2 separate regions of the Homo sapiens genome follow, and region 1 is linked to region 2. The links come from fine-mapping of genetic effects on gene expression. A gene starts in region 2. The other region holds a variant in brackets. All regions are shown on one strand. Distances are from middle to middle.

The links.
Region 1: its variant is fine-mapped to the expression of UBAC1 in caudate (GTEx, PIP above 0.99). The same link has a PIP of 0.9 or more in amygdala, anterior cingulate cortex, aorta, cerebral cortex, esophagus muscle and gastroesophageal junction.

Annotation. Positions count from the first base shown.
Region 1 is chr9:135,920,985-135,930,944 of GRCh38, reverse strand. CAMSAP1-DT (CAMSAP1 divergent transcript) reads right to left here. Exons shown (of 2, transcript XR_007061860.1): 2 at 9,915-9,960. Among named protein-coding and RNA genes, the nearest start is that of CAMSAP1-DT, 18 kb to the right of the region's middle. RefSeq lists enhancers at 3,985-4,034, 5,071-5,150. The variant G/A (reference allele first, on the strand shown) is at 4,553.
Region 2 is chr9:135,956,443-135,966,141 of GRCh38, reverse strand. UBAC1 (UBA domain containing 1) reads left to right here and starts at 4,769. Exons shown (of 10, transcript NM_016172.3): 1 at 4,769-5,117. The coding sequence starts at 4,980. RefSeq lists silencers at 4,620-5,029, 5,040-5,159 and an enhancer at 4,649-5,149.

The DNA of each region.
Region 1 (9,960 bases), 35 kb after region 2:
AGATGTTCCGGTGCACATTGCTCTGTTGAGATAAGGGCCACCTGTGTCATTTTGAGCTTCTGCTAAGCCGTTTTTCTTCTTCCGGGGTCCTGTGGAGCAGGACCCCTGGGCAGTGCCCTGTGGCCATACTCAGGGCTCTAGACCAGGGTGTGATGCCGAGGCAGGTCACCTGTGTGCCAGGGAAGGTGGAGGGAGTTAGATGGCTCACTTGGCCAGCATTCCCTCCTGCTCCGGTGGCCGAGCTTGGCGATGACACATGCGTTTCCTCGTGGAGTGGGATCATGCTGAGATTCCAGGACAGCGTGGCTCAGCTGCTGGAGGGGTGACTTCCCCTGAGATCGTGGGGTCAGGACATTGCTGTGCCGACTGTAGGCGCCGTCCACACAAGCAGGGGATTCCTCCCCCCAGGTGCAGAGAGAGGTGGCCCAGCCACTTGGGCCACTACAGCGAGCTGGCATGGCGGTGGGACCCCGGGTGAGGAGTCTGAAGGCAGGGGTGGGGCTCACTGTCAGCTGGTGGGGACTGGGGGGCTCCGGGAGGTACTGGATGTGGGAGAGGCTGGGGGTCCACCAGCCTGCATCCTTCTCGAGGTCAGGGCCCTGCTCCGTCCCGTTTCAGGGCTGGCTGGTTGTGGAGGCACTTGGAAAACACTCGCTGGAACAGGCGGGTGGGAGGTGGGGCTGGGACAGGGAGCATGGGAGCCAGAGACCGCAGGAGCCTGAATCCCAGAGGACATTCCTGCTGGGGGTGTGGGGACAGCACCATCGGGGGCCTCAGTGCATCCGGGGAGCAGGTGGGGCCTGCCTGGGTCAGCCTCAGCCCAGCTGTGGGGTTCGCCCCCGTGCCCTTCGCTGCCCTTGGAGGCATGCTTGGTCCCACGGGAAGGCAGGAGGATGAGCTGCCATTTGCAGGGTGTGGGGTGGGCAGAGCATTCATGCGCTGGGCACAGCCTCAGCCAGAGGAAGGGCATTGTTGGCGTTCTGGGCCCAGCACAGGCTGGAGAGAAGGAACCCTCATGTGCAGATGTGGCCGAGCCTCCTAACCATGAGAGCACCGCCCAGAGACAGCATGTGCCCAGGGGTGCCCCCGCCCACCCAGGGGCTCTCTCTCGGGTTAGGGCCGGGAGTCGGGTGTGGCACCTGCAAGCAGCTTTCTGTGCCCAGTGGAGGCTTGGAAGGCACAGCTGCCTCCAGGTGAGGATGCCTGGTGCCTGGCTGGGGACTGACTCCCAGGCAGAGAACACAGCCATGTGGCTCTGGGGGACAAGGGTTTGGATGCTGCAGACTGGGCAGGGCTGGGGGCGGGGGTCTGAGGCAGTTAGTGGCTCTTCGACGTTCTCTCAGAGCTCGCTCTGGTTTCCCGCCTGACGGTCTCCCCTTGAACAGCTGCACTTAAGTGAGGTCCACCCTTGCCCCACTCCCAGGCGGGCTCACTGGCTTGGCACACGAGGGAGTCTGAGGGAGCCCCCTGTGGGGTGGTGCCTGCATTCTGGGCTCCCAAGAGCTGGCTTCCTGCAGGGGAACCTGCCAGTGCACCCCCGGCACTTTCCTGGGATCGAGTCTCCGCCAGGGATGTCTCCTGGCTTGGTCCTCAAGGGTCTGCCAGCCTCATACCCCGCAGGGCACGGTGGGCTCTCCAAGGCCAGGCAGGGCCTTTTTGACGGGTTCAGCCTAAGCCCAGGGCTGGCAGGGCCAGGGCCTGCGGTTGGGCTGCTCATCACCCAGCAGTCGCCGGGGAGCATGGCTGAGTGCCCTGTCCCCAACTGTCACTGCCCACATAACTGGGGGTGGGCCCAGGGCTTTCTTTGGCCAGCAGGTGCCCCACTCTCTTCTCCACATTCCCAAGAGGGGCTCCCTTCACCCACAAGCTGTCCTTAGGGGCTCAGAATGAGTCCCAGCCTGTGTAGGGCCCCAAGTGTGGTCCTCCCGCGCCTCCCAGGCAGCCCCTGGGCTGTGGGCAGGCTCTGGCGCCAGCAGGGCATGAGCCTGGCTCTCGCCCAGCAGTGGGGTCTCTGTCCACCCTGCATCGTGCTCAGCCTCCCCCAGGCAACTGCGCTCTTCCTCTCAGCAGCCATGCGCCCCCTGGGCCGTGTGGCCACACTCCTGCCCTGTGCTTGGCCTCTCTGGGGTGGGCGGGGATGCCCACCCTCCCAGTGCCACCTCCCGGGCTCCTGAGAACTGTGAGCCCCATCCTGGGCTGGCCTCTGCTTCACCCAGAGGCTGTGGACCTCACAGCCCAGGCACGTCCCCTTCCCCTCTGGGGACCTGGCTGACCCCTCCTGGGCTCCTGAATGACAAGGGCCTGGATCCCAGACTTGTGAGGGCCCTTCCAGGTCCCTGTCAGAGTGGACCCCACCCACACCCAAGAGCACGTTCCTGCCCTGGTGTGAGCCTCGGGCACCAGGGCCACAGCCAGGGATCAGGGCCACTGCCGAGGGCCGTGGTGGAGCAGGCCTGGGACCATGAGCCCTGTGGCCGCAGCGGCTCTGCAAGCTGGCAGAGTCCTGACAAAAGCTCTGGGACCTGCACCCCTGTCCTTGAGTGGAGATGGATGGAGACAGGAGACCTGGTGTCCAGGCTCCGCCGCAGCAGGCACTGCCCTGGCAGGTCGGGGAGAGCCTGACTTCCAGGGCCCAGCCGCAGAGTCTAGAGAAATGATTTTACTCGGGCTGGGGGGTGGCGGGGACACAGGTGCCACAGAGCAGGAGGTGTGGTCAGGTGGGGCCTTCCCGCCCACAGCACTGGCTCTGTCGCCAGAAAGATCCTCCTCGAAGTGAGCTCGGAAGCGGACTCTCCCAGAGGGCAGGGGTGGCAGCTGCGGGGCTGTGGTACACTCTGCCTGCGGCGTCGCCCGTGTGTGGTTTTTGAAGTGTGTGTGTGGTGGTGTGGTGTGCGTGTGTGCTCTGTGTGCATGCACAGGCGTGCATGTGTGTGTGTGTGCTCTCTGCATGCAGAGGCGTGCGTGTGTGTGCGTGTGTGCTCTGCGTGCACAGGTGTGCGTGTGTGCTGTGTGCATGCAGAGGCATGTATGTGTGTGTGTGCATGCACAGGTGTGTGCATGTGTGCTGTGTGCATGCACAGGCGTGCATGTGTGTGCATGTGTGCTCTGCATGCATAGGCGTGCATGCGTGTATGCTGTGTGCATGCACAGGTTTGTGTGTGTGTGCGTGTGCTCTGCATGCACAGGTGTGCGTGTGTGTGCATGTGTGCTCTGTGTGCATGCACAGGCGTGCATGTGTGCGTGCGTGTGTCGTCCAGGGGAGCATCACGGGGAGGCCAGGCGTGTGCCCAGCTCCCCAAGCAAGGCCTCCTGGCTTCCCTTCCGGCTGTCCCGTGGCTCCTGTGTGGCCGGGGCCTCTGGTGTGGGCCGGCAGCTCTTGGCCCCCAATGGGGATGGAGCAGCTCCAGGGTGCCTGGGACCAGGCTGGCACTGCTGGCAGAGTCAGTAGGATGGGTGCAGCCCCTGGGGACAAGGACAGGAAGCAAGGGCAAAGGCACCTCCAGGACAGGCCAGGACAACTTCTTGGCTTCCACGCAGCCTTCCAGAGCAGGGCCACAATGCTGTCCCTGTTCCAGGCTTTGGAATGTCCTAGAGATGCTTCTCAGGTGGCCAGCCCTGAGTCCTGCACTGGAACCCAGAGAGGCAGGGCACATCCCCAAGGCCACATTGCCGTGGTCACAGAGCAGGTTAGGGCGCTGGGGGATCCCCGCCTGGCCTGCCCAGGAGAGAAAGGGCTCTCTGTGCGGCCCCGGTGCTCGAGTCCTGGAGGAGCCTGTGGCTGCAGGCTCTCAGATCTCCTCCCTTCGGGCGGGGTCTCTGGCACCTCTGCCTCTGACTCACTGGCCACCAATGGTGTCAGCAGAGGGAGCGGGAGTCCCCGGCTGCCTCAGCAAGGCCCTGTGGTGCCCGCCTGACTCTCAGGGCCTCTCGCTTTTGTTGTCCTGAGTCACCACCATCAGGAAGTCACACTGCCCTGAGGCGGCTGCGTTGCCAGGAAGCCTAGGCCACGTGGAGAGGCCACTCCAAGAGGCCACATGGATGTGCTCAGGGTGACAGCCAGAAGCGACCGCCACAGGTGGAAGTGAGGAACACACTGAAGGCCTCGCTGTGGTTGGGTCACCTGGCCGTTCTCTCCACGGCGAAGTGGAGACCACCATGGCACTGGGCCCTGCCTGGGTTCCCTTCCCGGGGCCCTTGAGTGCGGCACGATAAAGGCTGTGCGCAGCTGCCACACCTGGTGTCACTGGTCACTTGGAGTCACTGCAGCACCAGCTGAAGGAGAGAGGGTCCGGCTCAGCTGAGAGGCCGCTTCCCATCCAGTGACTGGAGGCAACTTTGTTGGAGAGTTTTCCAGCCTGAGACGGATGCAGGGGAATTTGGAGACTGGTCCCAGCCAGGGTGCATCCCAGGGTGTGGTGGGGGCTGCCCCAGTCGGCACGTCCCGCAGATCCTCACACCCTCTGGCCACTGAAGACCTCTGAGGCCAGCCTAAGGAGGGGCCTGCAGGGCTCTCCTTGTTTTTTTTCTTTGAGGCGGAGTCTCTGTCGCCCGG[G/A]CTGGAGTGCAGTGGCAAGATCTCGGCTCATTGCAACCTCCGCCTCCTGGGTTCATGCCATTCTCCTGCCTCAGCCTCCTGAGGAGCTGGGACTACAGGCGCCCAGCACCACACGCAGCTAATTTTTTTATTTCTAGTAAGACGGGGTTTCACCATGTTGGCCAGGCTGGTCTCGAACTCCTCATCTTGTGATCTGCCCACCTCAGCCTCCCAAAGTGCTAGAATTATAGGTGTGAGCCACCACAACCGGCCGTTGTTTTTAGGTTTTATGTATTTACTTTAGAGACGAGGTCTCGTTCTGTCACCCAGGCTGGAGTGCAGTGCAGCCATCACGGCTCATTGTAGCCCACAACTCCTGGGCTCAAGCATCCTCCCGCCTCAGCCTCCAGGGTAGCTGGGACTGCAGGTATGCACCACTGCGCACAGCTAGTTTTTAAATGTTCTCTAGAGACGGGGTCTTGCTGTGTTGCCCAGGCTGGTCTTGAACTTCTGGCCTCAAGCAATCCTGCCTCAGCCTCCCAAAGCACTGGGATTACAGGCATGAGCCACAGGGCCCGGCCTCTCAGTGCTTTCTGAGAATGAGCTGCTTTTCTCTTCCGCCCCCAGACCTGAACCTCAGTGTTCCTGGAAACTCCCACGCTTGCATTCTGATGCTGAATTAATCACCGTGTCCCCAGGTGGCTGCTCTTGCCAGCCAAGCACTGAGGCCTCCAAACTCAGTCCCAGGATGGCGGCGGTCGGACCCCACGCTTCCTTGGGGCTCGCTGAGGGAGGGGGTCTGACCCCACAGGCCCTACCCAGGAGTGAGTCCGGGGCCAGGGTGGCCCTCGCAGACAGCGGACACTCTCGCTGCTTCCCTCCTATCCAGGCTGGGCCCACCACTTCCATGATGTGGCTGCCCTCACCATTAATTGCTTAAACCTGGGAGACGGAGGTTGCAGTGAGCCGAGATCACGCCATTGCACTCCAGCCTGGGCAGCAAGAGTGAAACTCCATCCCCCACCCCCCCAAAAAAGAACAGCTCTACTAGGCTCTACCTGACATGCACCAAGCTGTGTGTGCGAGGTTCACAGGTTGGAGGCTCCTGAAACAAGTGGGCACCTGGGAAAGCATCAAAGTCAAGACCCCCAGCACGGGGGACCTGCAGCCGCCAGGCCACTGGTTGCACAATTCCTGAGCCGGCGGGTTTCTTTCGCCTTCTGTAGGTTCGACCTTGAAACTACAAGAGTGAATCTGAAAGTTAGTTCAAAAAGTCAAACGGGTTCACAGCAGCCAAGAGGTGGCGACAACACGAAGCCCATTGGTGGAGGAGTAGGGGGGCAACATGTGGTCACCCAGACAATGGGGTGTTCGGCACACGAGGAGGTGAGCCCTGACGCAGCGACACGCGTGAACCTTGAAGGCATCATGCTGAGCAGGACAAGCCAGGCATGAAGGTCCACATGTTGTCTTGATTCCATTTCTATGAAATGTCCACAACAGGCGAATCCACAGAGACACAAAGATGGGTGGTTGCCACGGGCTGGGGGAGGGAGGAATGGGGAGTGAGGGCTGATGGGGAGGGCGTTTCCTTCCCAGGGCATGACAGTGTTCTGGAACTAGATGGATGTGGCTGCGACGCATCGGGAATGAATGCAACGGCACTGAATTGTCCACCTTAGCACGGCTGAGTTTGTTATGTGAATTTCCCCTCAATACAAAAATAAAAAAAATTGCCTCTAATTTTCTTTCCAGCTGTAACTTCCGTGTTTTTAAGGCGTCGAACCCAATCCCTCCGTTTTACATCCTCTATGAACTAATCGATGCCCCCAAACTACTAAATTTCATTTCCCAGAAAGTTCATGAAAAACCAAAACTCCAAGGAAGAAAAACTTGAGACCCAAGCTAGTCTCGTGTTTTTTATCATCTGTGATTTTTCAAAATTTCCATGCTGGGCCTGAAGTACTGTTAGTCAGAACGGTTTATTTAAGCAAACCAATATGCATGCTTTGTCATAAAATAATTTCCATATGGTAATACACTTGTTTTTTCTGTTTGTTTGTTTTTTGAGACAGAGTCTTGCTCTGTCATCCAGGTTAGAGTGCAATGGCGCGATCTCGGCTCACCGCAACCTCTGCCACCTGGGTTCAAGTGATTCTCCTGCCTCAGCCGCCTGAGTAGGTGAGATTACGGGCATGCGTGCCACCATGCCCAGCTAATTTTTTTTTTTTTTGAGACGGAGGTCTCACTCTGTCGCCCAGGCTGGAGTGCAGTGTTGCGATCTCGGCTCACTGCAAGCTCCGCCTCCCGGGTTCACACCATTCTCCTGCCTCGGCCTCCCGAGTAGCTGGGAGTACAGGCGCCTGCCACCACACCTGGCTAATTTTTTGTATTTTCAGCGGAGATGGGGTTTCACTGTGTTAGCCAGGATGGTCTCGATCTCCTGACCTCGTGATCCACCCACCTCGGCCACCCAAAGTGCTGGGATTACAGGCGTGAGCCACCGTGCCAGACAGTAATACATCTGCAACAGTGGTATTTTAAACACAATGGGCAGGCACATTTTGGTTTGGGTTCTGCACATTTTTAGCCTTGCAAGTCAGTGGAGACAGAGATGCGTGCTGCACCGCGGGAGGTAACTAGCCTGACCCAGAAGGGCTGGGGCGCAGAGATCCCCCACCTGGGGCTCCCCGCTGACTCCTGGAGCCCAGCCTGGGGGTCGCAGGGGAGTGGGCGGAGGCCACCCTGATCCCCACGCCAGACCTCCGTCCCCAGGACTGGAGGGAGAGGAGGGAACGAGGGAAGTCCTAAAGCTAAGCCAGCTGTTTAGCCCGTTTTCCCGACTGGGGCTCTGGACAGGCCCTGCCTGCTAAATGGTAAATGCTTTAATCTCCAGCGACCTAATTTAGTTCTTTTAAAAGCACAACTCAAAGCAAAAATGAAGCTGCCTAATATTTGTTAAAACACTATTATTAGGAGAAGTGGTAATATGTTGAAATTACCTTTACAAAAATTAAAGAAAGAAAGTTGGCCGGGTGCAGTGGCTCACGCCTGTAATCCCAGCACTTTGGGAGGCCGAGGCGGGCAGATCACAAGGTCAAGAGATGGAGACCATCCTGGCCAACATGGTGAAACCCCGCATCTACTAAAAATACAAAAAAAATGAATTAGCCAGGCGTGGTGGTGCGCTCCTGTAATCCCAGCTACTCGGGAGGCTGAGATAGGAGAATCGCTTGAACCTGGGAGGCAGAGGCTGCAGTGAGCCAAGATCACGCCACTGCACTGCAGCCTGGAAACAGAGCCAGACTCCGTCTCAAAAAAAAAAAAAAAAAAGGCTGGGATTGGTGGCTTACGCCTGTAATCCCAGCACTTTGGGAGGCCGAGGCAGGCAGATCACGAGGTCAGGAGTTTGGCGGGCCCCTGTAATCCCAGCTACTCCGGAGGCTGAGGCAGGAGAATCACTTGAACCCAGGAAATGGAGGTTGCAGTGAGCCAAGATCGCACCACTGCACTTCAACCTGGGCAACAAGAGGGAAAATCCATTTCAAAAAAGAAAGTCTGTGCAGGGTGGCTCATGCCTGTAATCCCAGCACTTTGGGAGACTGAAGCAGGCGGATCACCTGAGGTCAGGAGTTTAAGACCAGCCTGGCCAACATGGTAAAACACTGTCTCTACTAAAAATATAAACATCAGCTGGGCGTGGTGGCAGGCACCTATAATCCCAGCTACTTGGGAGGCTGAGACAGCAAAATCGCTTGAACCTGGGAGGTGGAGGTTGCAGTGAGCCGAGATTGAGCCACTGCATTCCTGCCTGGCAACAGAGTGAGACTCAAAAAAAACCCCAAAAAACAAAAACCTACAAAACAAAACAAACAAACCACTGTCATTAGGGGAGATGGTAATATGTTGAAATTACCACTTTACAAAAATTAAAAAAAATAGAAAGGCTGGGCACGGTGCCTCACACCTGTAATCCCAGTGCTTTGGGAGACCGAGGTGGCAGGATCGCTTGAGCCCAGGAGTTCGAGACCAGGCTGGGCAACATAAGACCCTGTCTCCATTATTTTTTTTAAATAATAAAAAATGACCTCCTTACAATGAGGTGAGCAAGCGTCAGCCTGCAGGCCGGATGCCCAGGAGCATGGGCTCACCCTGCCCTGACTTCCAACTAGGCTGGGGGCCAGGTGGGGAAAAGTCCTGTGCCCCTCCTGAGGGGGTGCAGGGCCCGATTTGGAAGGCCTGGGTCCAGGGTGGAACACTGCCACCTTTACCAAGGCTTGTGTGACCTTGTTGCCAGGGGAGGGTCTGATGGGCCGGCCCGCTGGGGATATCTGGGCTACCAGCTGGGCCATCCTGGGGCCACTGAGAAGGCGAAGGGCTCAGAGCTCAGCCAGGTCAGGGTTTCCTCTCTCATCGCTCCCCACTCCTCCGTCCATGCCTAGGGGCATCTGCAGGGCTGGTCTGGGGCCGCCCAGAGGCTGTGAGGGCCAGAGGCCTCACCCGGGTCACCACCCAGAGCAGGAGGTGAGCTGGGGGCACGGGAGCAAAGGCGAGGCAGGCAGGCTCGGGGAAGAGCTCCAGGAGGCAGGTGTGCAGTTAGCGTTAGGGTTATGAAGGAGGGGAGGGGATGTGTGGGTAATGGTGCATTTTGCCTTCTCCAGCAGCTGGGTCTGAAATGCTTGGGGATCAGGTCACCCAGGAGGGTGGGGTGACCAGAGGCCAGGGTTCCAGAAAGGGCTGGCACCTGACCATGTTGGACTAGGGTGACAGGGACTGGGTCCATGTGCCACAATCCACACGAGGGTGTCCCATTTGTCCCTCTACCTCCCCCCACGGAGGTGGGAACCTGGGGCTGGTGAGGGTGATGGCACCTCTCTGCAGGGCCCCCAGATTCCTGATGCATAAGGAAACAGCGCCCACTCGTCCCACTTCTCAGGTCGTTGAACACCAGCAGTCACGGAACACCGAGGCATGATCCACGCAGCATGACAGGCAAGCAGGGCAGGGGAGCAGGGCCAGAGCCGGGGAGCCCAAGGTGGCCTCAGAGAGCACCTGTGTGGAGGCAGGCCCGGGGGGTGTCCTGGGCTCGCCCGTCCCAGGAGCCGGATGGCTGGCCGAGCAGTGTGAGAGAGGACAGAGCCCAGTGCAGGACGGGCAAACCCAGGAGGTGTCTGGGAGCACCAAGAGCAGACAGCTTCTCCCGTGGGAGAACAGAGCGCAGCTGCTCTTGGGGAAGGAATGTGCGTGAGGCTGAAACTCGGGCGTTCGCCAGGTCTCGGGTGGCACAGACCTCTTACCTGTCCCATGCTGTGGCCGTTCAAAGCTCACCCCTACCTGGCAAAACCGCATTCCTTATTATTTATCTCACAAGGGAGAAATGGAATTTAATTCACTTAATTAAATTAGCATTTAATTCACTTAATTAAAAA
Region 2 (9,699 bases):
CACCTGAGGTCAGGAGTTCGAGACCAACCTGGCCAACATGGCGAAAACCCGTCTCTGCTAAAAATACAAAAACTAGTAGGGTGTGGGGGCAGCGCCTGTCATCGTAGCTACTCAGGAGGCCTAGACGTGAGAATCACTTGAACCCAGGAGGCAGAGTTTGTAATGAGCTGAGATCGCGCCACTGCACTCCAGCCTTGGTGACAGAGCAAAACTCTGTCAAAAAAAAAAAAAAAAAAAGACAGAAAGAAAAGAACCTGCCCAGGCCTCTTGACTGGGAAGAGACAGTGTGGATGCCAGACTGGGCCATTTGACTCTGGGATCTTCCCTTCATGCTGGCCCCTCACCCCAGGGAGTCCCAGAGAGTGGGGCCTGGGAGGCCTCAGGACAGCCTGGCCACTGGAGAGGGACTCCCCCCAGACCTCTCTGGCATTGCTGTTCCTCTCCTACGTTCAGGGGCTGGGGGGAGGTACTGCCAGCTGACCTCAGCCTGGGGCAGAGCTGCCACCAACAGGGAGGTGGCTTCCAGCAACTTCCAGGCTCCTTGCTGACACACTTGGTGTGCCGAGTAGTGTCCCAGAGGAGGTGCAGCCAGGGCGGGCTTCCTGGAGGAGGAGGCCCTGAGCCTGAGGAATGGGCTAGGTTGGCACAGGCTTCGAGGTAGGGAGAGAAGCAGGAGTGCTGGTATGGCCGGGAGCAACCCAGGGGTGAGGGAGGGAGGGGCTTCACTGAGGCTCAGGATGCAGGGTGAGGGGCCAGGCCAGGCCAGGCCAGCCTGAGTGCTTTGGCTGCACGAGACACAAGAAGCCACTTCTGACACAGACAATGAGGGAGGAGGAGCATAAGCCCTTGTCCAAAAAGGACAGCATCAGAACGGCAGAGGCCGATGACTCCAGCAGGGTGGGAACTACCTGCCACTAAGGAGCCCCTGCTGGGCTCCCGCTGTACCCGGGGGTTGGGCCCGAAGCCTCTCTGGTGGCTGGTTGGTGGCCCTGATAAACACACATCTGTGTCCCAACCCTGGAACTGTAGTGGGAACTCATTTGGGGAGAAGGGTTTTTGCAGATGTAATTAAGTTCAGGATCTCCAGGTAAGATCATCCTAGATTAGGGTGGCCCCAAATCCAATGACAAGTGTCCTCATGGGAGGCACACAAAGGACAGCCATGGGAAGAGGAGAGGCTGCATGAAGATGGAGGCAGAGGCTACAGCCATGTGGCCACAGGCCAAGGAACCCCGGAGTCCCCAGGAGCTGGAGGAGGCAGGAAGGACCCTCCCCTGTGGCTCCAGAGGGAGCGTGGCCCATGAACACCTGGATTTCAGACTTCCGGCCTTCAGAACTGGGCGAAAATACATTTCTATTGTTTTAAGCACCACCCCCCAGCCCCAGTTTGTGGCAATTTGTTATAGGAAACAGCCTCAAACCCATGAGAGGAGGGGAGACAATGAGAACCCATCAATTGACAGCCTCGTGGGTGAAGCGGGGTGGGGGCTGGAGTGGTCTCAGAGTACCACGAACCTCCTATCCTTCCACGGGAGGGCACAGGCGTTCCTCCAGGACTCAGGTCAGCTTTGGCTTGAGTCTTTGCTAGCGTGGCCTCTGTGGACCCTTGCAGGGTCCTTGTGATGGCACTGTCCCCCCGCTGTAAAGCCCGTGGCCAGGAGGAAACAGGGAGACTGGGAAGGTTTGATGCCAGGATGGGGGGTTCAGATGTTTCCTGTCAGAAGCAAGCGGGATGCCCTGAGGCCACAGCTTCAGCCCCCTCCCCAGCCACCCCATCCCTCCTCCTTCCTCCAGCCCCAGCCTCCCCTCTGCCCGCTCTCACGCTCAGCCCAGAAACGCGCCCAGCCTCTCTAATGTAAACATGCTGCTGGGCACCCCGTGGCTGGTGCCCTCCTCTCTCTGTTCCCCCAGCCTTCTTGGAAGGTGGAACAGGTGCATCTGTGGCCTCTTGGTGGCTTTCCCATGGCTCCATCCTTTCCCTGTCACTTTGTCCCCTCCCTCTTTGACTTTGGTCCAGAGGACATCAACAAACATGGCTCAAGCAAAGGCTGAAAAACCTGCTGCGGTGGATCCCAGACACTCCCGTGGGAACTCACTGGGGAACATGAGACCGAGGCTGAGGGCCTAGGGATCCCGACCAGCCCACCTGCCAGCCTGGCTTGGTCAGCAGCACCACCCAGCCAGCCGTGGACTTGTGAGAAGTGATGGAGAGCTGTTGGTTGTTTTACCCGCTGAGTTTTAGGACGGTTTTGTTATGCAGCATCACTGTGGCTGCAGATACCAGATCTGCAGCCAGGCAGGCTTGGGCCCCAGTCCCCTTCCGGTCCCTGGAGACGCTCCCTGAGATGACGTGATATTTCTGGTTCTTCTCTTACAGGCCCCATTTTCTCCTCAATATCTTCTCCGCCTTGTGTTTCATGGAGCCACACTCTTGGAACTTTCCTAGTACCATACTCCTCTGTTTTCTTCATGAGCTCCTCTGCATGGGAAGGGGGGTGGGCATCCTCTTAGTTCCAGCTGCCGCTGGTGTGCTCATGACTGGTTTGACTTTTTTGTTTTGTTTTGTTTTTTTGGGACGGGGTCTTGCTGTGTTGCCCAGGCTGGAGTGCAGTGGTGCCATCACGGCGCACTGCAGCCTGGACCTCCTGGGCTCAGGTGATCCTCCCACCTCAGCCTTCTGAGTAGCTGGGACCACAGGTGTGCACCACCACGCCCAGCTCATTAATTTTTTTTATTTTTTGTAGAGGGTCTTGCTACGTGGCCCAGGCCGGCTGCCCAGTGTTTGTCTCCAGCCCAGGCCTCTCTCCTCAACTTCAGTCCTGTAGGTCCAGCTGCCTCCAGGCCACCTCCGTGTGAATGCCCCCAGCACATCCAGGTCCCCGTGTCCAAAACTACCCAACACCTTCCTGGCCAATGGCTCCTCCTCCTGCCTCCTACTTCAAAAGGTGGCACTGCCCTGCACTCTGCCACCCACACTGGAAGTCTTCAAGTCATCCTTGATTTCACTCTTGGGCCCACACCCTCCAATCCTGCTGGCCTCCCCTCCCACAGGCCACTGGAAGCCCCCTTCTCCTCTTCCTCTCCCTCCGCATTGCTCCCCCGCAAGGATGCCCTGCCCTCTTCCCTGTCCCCTCCACAGTCACCACCATTCATTCTGCCACCTGGTCACACCGTTAGTGGCTCTCACAGCAACGTCTTAATGCTCTGACCCGGCTCCTCCAAGCCCTCTAGCTTCCCCCACTCTCCACTCACCACCTTGGTGTTCCTCCCCTTTCTCCTCCACCAGCTTCCACGATACTACCACCACCTCCACTGCGGTCTCTAACAGTCGGTACTTCTGCTTCCTGCGTTAAAAATGCCCCATTCCAGGACTGTATCCTGGTGTCTGGTCTTAATCACTACCATATTTTCATTGAGTAGCAGAGGCTCCCACCTGTGAGAGGCAATTAGTAAGTGCTGAACTGGACACATGGAATCTGGACGAGGTTGGAATTATCACAGGAGAAAAATGAGGATGTGTGTGCAAAATGGTGTGGACAGAATAAAAGCCTGCAGGCAGGAGGCAGAGACAGCCTCCCCGGTTAGATTGCTAACCTCTGAGAACGGGAACTGTGCCTTATTCATCTCTGCGCAGTAAAGTTTTTTTAAATGAATGGGATGAATGAGTACAGATCAGTCAATGTGTCAGGTCTAACCTGAACTACAAAATTCATATTTAGGAGCATGGTAAGTAAGACGTTATCCAGGACTGTTGAGCTAGGTACAGAGACCACTGCCAAGGGGGCTTGCAGTGGGGAGAGAGGTCAGGCTCAACTCCCAATACAGCAAGGGCAAGTGGGTGGGGTCAGTGAATGGAAAATTAATAGGAGAAAACATCAGGGATGTGGGCGGTTCTGGCTAAACCGACCTGACAGGGTTCTTGCTGAAGAGAGGCTGGAGATATCAGACAGCACCTGGGGGACGAGGAACCTGACCAGACGTCCAGGGTGATCTGATATTGAGGCTGGGAGTTCTTGCTAAACTCACTTATCAAGGCTCTTCGCTAAAACTGGATTTTACAAGGAAGTGTACAGATGATGTAGAAGGTTCAGGAGCCTGCTTAAGTTTGGCCAAGCAAAGACTCTTTGTCACACCCCACAGAAAATGAGTCTGCCTGGCATCACCTGCACCAAGGGCGGCTTCCCTCCCCTCTGGGTGCCCCGCAAACCTAGGCTTCGCAGGAACAGTGACTCTCTGATCTGCGTGTGAATTAGAAAGACCTAGGCTTGTTAAAGCCAAGTTCTTTGGAGAGCCTCCGTTCTACAGCAGTGCAGTGCAAAAGAAATATCACAGCAGCCATGTAGGCAATTTAAAATTCTATCTTAAAAAGGTTAAAAGAAACAGGTGAAATTAATTTTAATGACATATTTTTCTTAACTCAATAGATACAAAATATTATTTCAACATGTAATCAATATGAAAACATTATCGAGATGCCTTACATTCCTTTTTCCCGTTACTTCTTTGGGATCCAGCGTGTATTTTACCTTTAGAACCCATGAGGTCCCACGTGGTGAGTGCCCCGGGTGGGAACCGCCTGCAGCTCGGGGAGGAACGAAGCTACCAGAGAACTACAGCTCCCGGCATGCTCCGGGCGCGCCCCGTGACGCACTTCCTTTGCGGTGGCCACAGCGCGCCCCCGGCGGCGGGAGCGAGGCGCCTGTCCGAGAACCACATCTCCCGGCATGCGCCAGACGCGCCCGTGACGCACTTCCGGTGCGGCCGCGACGGCGCGCCCCCGGCGGCTGCTGCGGCGGCGGGAGCGAGGCGACCGCTGAGGCCGCGGAGAGTGACGGCGGCCCGGCCGACGGGAGCCGGGGCGGGGCGGCGGCCCAGCGAAGGAGCGCGCGGGCGGTCTGGCCCCGCCCCCTCCCCGCCCGCCTTCCCGGTGACCTTCAGGGGCCCGGGTGGCGGGCGCAGGCCCCTGCGGCGGCGGCGGGATGTTCGTGCAGGAGGAGAAGATCTTCGCGGGCAAGGTGCTGCGGCTGCACATCTGCGCGTCCGACGGCGCCGAGTGGCTGGAGGAGGCCACCGAGGACACCTCGGTGGAGAAGCTCAAGGAGCGCTGCCTCAAGCACGTAAGGCCGGGCCCCCTCCCCTGCCCCCAACACCCGCTCCGGACCCCTCCGACTGCGGACCCCGCCTCAGTCCCCGAACCGCCCCGACCTGGGGTCCGCCGCCCAGTCCGCAGCTCCCAGGCCCTCTCCTCCGGGGGTGGAGGCAGCGCCTCCTGCCCGTTTGCCCGACTCTCCCCCTTTCGGATCCCACACCTCTGGACGCTCGTCCCGGGCCTGGCCTTTCGGCCGGCGGACTCCGGTCACTAAGCGCTCGCCCCGTGCCAGCCGCCCGGCCGAGCCCTGTACACGCCAGCCTCTCAGTTAACTCTGCAGCCACGCAGGGAGGTAGGGGCAGATCGGGAAACTGAGGCCTGGAGAGTGAAGTCGCCGACGGAGCAGGGCCTCGGGACTTTCCGGCAGTTGTACCTTTTTGCTGTTGGGGTGAGGTTTTTTTTCAGCAGCATCTTTGAGAGCTGAGAATTAACGTAGGCTCCTTCATGAAGAGGCCCCTTCTCCTTCCTCTTCCCCTTTCCCGCAGAGCCGGCTGCTTGGAGCTCTTTTCCTGGCTGGCCCCAGGCCACTGTGCCTTTTAGCTGGAGTCCCTGAAATAGTGCCGCTGCGGGACAAGGCCCTGCGCCCCTGCTTTTCTGCAGAGGTAAAATTGGTCAAGAGAGAAGTCCCAGGAGTAGGGTCTCCTCGCGGAGACACTTTTTAAAGTTTATTCACCTGAAATACTCCTGTGTATTTAGTTCCTTAGGTTGCTGATTTTTGGAACTAGTTCTCGAGTCTCTAAAGGACTCAGTAAGGTCAGCTAAGAAGCCTGTCTGTGTGTCAGACTGACCTCCTGTCTATACCTGACATGATCTGAGGGCTTGGCAGAATTTAGGTTGAAGGAGGCTGCAATTTTCTAGTGGCGACTCCATGTGATAAGTTACGACGTATCTGTGTTGACAGGTTGAGTGCGTTACACTTGAGCTGAGTGTGGTCTCTAAGGATAAACTTCAGTTCTTACCATAGTAGCTGCTCGCATACAGTACTTTCGAGTTGCTTTTGTGAGCATGGTTCTGTGGAGTTCTGGAACTGTCAGAGGCAAGCTTGGCAAGCCCCCTTCTGGAACGCACTGGCTGTGAATAACTGGGAGGTGCTGGCCTCAGGATTCACACCAAGGAGGGGGCTGAGCCTCCTGCGTTCAAGGGCCGGTATGTTTTGGCTGCTTTCTTGCTTTTCTTCTGCCCCAGTCTGCATGATTTTGCCGTCTGAACAACCATCGGGGCATCACTAAGCTCCAGCGCCGGTAACTCCGTGGGCATCCAGGCTGTTTGAGCCAGGTGGTGTTGCTTGTCTAGTTGTGTGTATTTTAAAAAACTTCTCTGGGCCGGGCACGGTAACTCACACTTGTAATCCCAGCACTTTGGGAGGCCGAGGTGGGCGGATTATGAGGTCAGGAGATTGAGGCCATCTTGGCCAACATGGTGAAACCCCGTCTCAACTAAAATACAAAAAATTAGCGGGGCGTGGTGGTGTGTGCCTGTAATCCCAGCTACTTGGGAGGCTGAGGCAGGGTAATCGCTTGAACCCGGGAGGCGGAGGTTGCAGTGAGATGAGATCGCGCCACTGCACTCCAGCCTGGCGACAGAGCAAGACTCCGTCTCAAAAAAAAAAAAAAAAAAAAACCAGACAAAAAACCCTAGAAACTTCTCTGAGGTGCTGCTGTGTCCTCCCTGAGCCAGTACAGAAGCTCCTCAGGGGTTCGGTTTATATCCACAAGTCCAGGGCCGGGCTTAGAGTGGCACCAAAACAAACTTGTGGGTTAATGGAATAGACAAAAATATCCTGTGGACCCCACACTGCATCGACATGGGATGTCCCCTGCGTTGGCACGGCATTTACTTTAACTCACTCGGTGCGATGTGCATGGCCATCATGATACTCTTTTATGAAAGGAAATAGGAAATGAGAGCTGTTTGATCCACAGATACCTACTCATGAATTTCAGGAGCACGGAGGGTCAGTTAGGCAGCCAGTTCCGATGCAATGCTAATTATTATACTCCTGATATATATTATTCCATTTGGTGTTGAGATGTATCATTTGGGATGTTTTGTCATTATTCTACTTTAAATTGAGATTGTATCCCACTCTGCGGTTTCCACAGGTGTGGAGGATCTGAGTAGCAGGGGATTTTCACACCGCAAGAGCCGACATACATTTCAGGACTCCAGAGCTGAGCGTCAGAAAGGTTCCCCACCACCACATCCCAGCGTGGTTCTGCAGGCAGGGCCAGAATGCGTTAGTCAGAAAAGAGAACCCTCGAGTTGTGTATTTGAATGTCTCTCTGGAAGCCGGTCCCTGGATGTCATCCTGCTGTAGGCAGTGAGGTCTGGTGTCTGTTTTAGCTTTGTTCCTCCTCGCCAGGTCCCCAGTGCGTGCTGACGCCGGCATGATTTTTTCCTTCCTCTTTTCCATCTGCCTGGAGGGGAATGATGTCGGCTTCTCCCTGCTGTGCTCCTGGGTGTGCACTCCTGAATCAAGGAGGGGTTTTATGATCAAAACTCTTGCTTTTGCCTTTCCCTTTTCTGTTTTGTGCAAATTGGGATCACCGTGGTGGCCTCTAGCTTCCATTGCCCTGGAGTGGAGAAGGGGGCAGAGGAACCTGTCTTGTACAACAGGTAGTTAATGAGTTTTAGAAAATTATACCTGGCTGAGCACGGTGGCTCATGCCTGTAATCCCAGTACTTTGGGAGGCCAAGACAGGCAGATCACAAGGTCAGGAGATCGAGACCATTCTGGCTAACACAGTGAAACCCCATCTTTACTAAAAATACAGAAAAATTAGCCGGGCGTGGTGGCGGGCACCTGTAGTCCCAGCTACTCGGGAGGCTGAGACAGGAGAATGGTGTGAACCTGGGAGGTGGGACTTGCAGTGAGCCGAGATCAAGCCACTGCACTCCAGCCTGGGCGACGGAGAGAGACTCCGTCTCAAAAAAAAAAAAAAAGAAAATTATACCTGTGGTGCAGTAGAGTTTTTGGTGTGTCGTAAACATTCATGAAATTCCAGCCTGGCCAACATGGCAATACCCCTTCTGTACTAAAAATGTAAAAAAATAGCCTGGCATGGTCGCGGACTCCTGTAATCCCACCTACTCAGGAGGCTGAGGCACAAGAATCGCTTGAACCTGGGAAGCGGAGGTTGCAATAAGCGGAGATCGCGCCACTGCACTCCAGCCTGGGTGACAGAATGAGACCCTGTCTTTAAAAAAAAAAAAAAAAAAAGAAGGAGTTCATAAAATTGCCAGACTAGAAGAGAGTACCCGCTAGTATAGCTGTTAAATTTTCCATTTCCTAGATCGCATGAAGATGGGTCCTCAGATGGCAGGTTGCATCAGGTACAAGCAGAAACGAAGTCACTACTCTTCTGGGGAGGAGCAGGATGGAGTGGGGTGGGGGTGTGAGGGCCTCCCTACTCCAGCGGCCTTGGTTGGGGCTTTTTTGCTGCCATACCCCAGCTTCTGCCGAGAACAAAGAAGCAGAGTGACACGGTCGTCCTAGTGCTTCCGTGTTGTTCCTGGTGTGCTGGTGACACGTGGACTGTGGGTTTTTTGGGAATCAGTATGAGAATTATTTTGGAAAACTGCATTTCGTAGTCTGTATTCTGAACTTGACAAATGAACTAGCCTGCAAACTTTAGGATCATGAGGAAGCACCCCCAGTATTTCAGGGAGCAGAGCCATTGTCAAATCCAGAGGCACTTGAGGGTTCTCTGCCCTGTTGTAAATGGCAGGAGTGTGTCTTCCTAGTAGCTGCGTCCCCCCAACATCCCCTCAGCCTGGCCAGTTTTGTGTGAAGGAGTGAGCCCCTGAAGCCGTCAATCCCTTTTTCAAAACCGTTTTCAGTCTTGAGAGTAACAGAAATTCCAGTTACTCTGAAAATGCCAGTGTTGAGAGGTGAAGTGTGTGCTTAGATTTTCTTTCCCAGCAAGCAGTTGTGTGTGCTGGGTGTTTCAGAGCCTCTGTGGCAGCAAAGGGTGGTGGAAAGTGAGCTGCCAGCAGGGCGTCTGCCCGGCCACCTGAGACGTCCGAGGACGGCCTGTCCTGGGGTGGTGCCCCGGCCCAGCTCCAGGCTGGGCCATGCTCCTGACCCACAGGCTGAGCCTGCTACCGGGTTTAGAAAGTGCCCAGTGAGGGTTTCATCCTTTTCTGATAGTCAGGTAATTCTACCATCAAACCTCAGGGGATCTGTAAGAGCAAGAAAATAGTCAGCCTTCTCTCCGTCCAAGCTCTGAGTTCTGAAGGGTTTTCAGGCCAGGCTATGGAAACTGTGGGTATTTTGTGAAACACAGAAGTGCAGCCCCTCTCCTCTCACCCCACGATTCCGGCTGGGGAGGCGCCATATTTGGTTAGGTGGGCACTGTTTGGTGTGGTGTGCGGTGCTGTGCTGTGCGGTGGTGTGCTGTGCTGTGCTGTCGTGTGTCGGGCTGTATGGTGCTGAGGTAGATAATAGAGTGGAGTCGTGGAGCTCTGGACCGACTTGGGCACGAACATGCAGGCACATGTGCCGACCTCAGTCTTCATCACACGGCACCATCAGTGTTTGCCATTCTTCA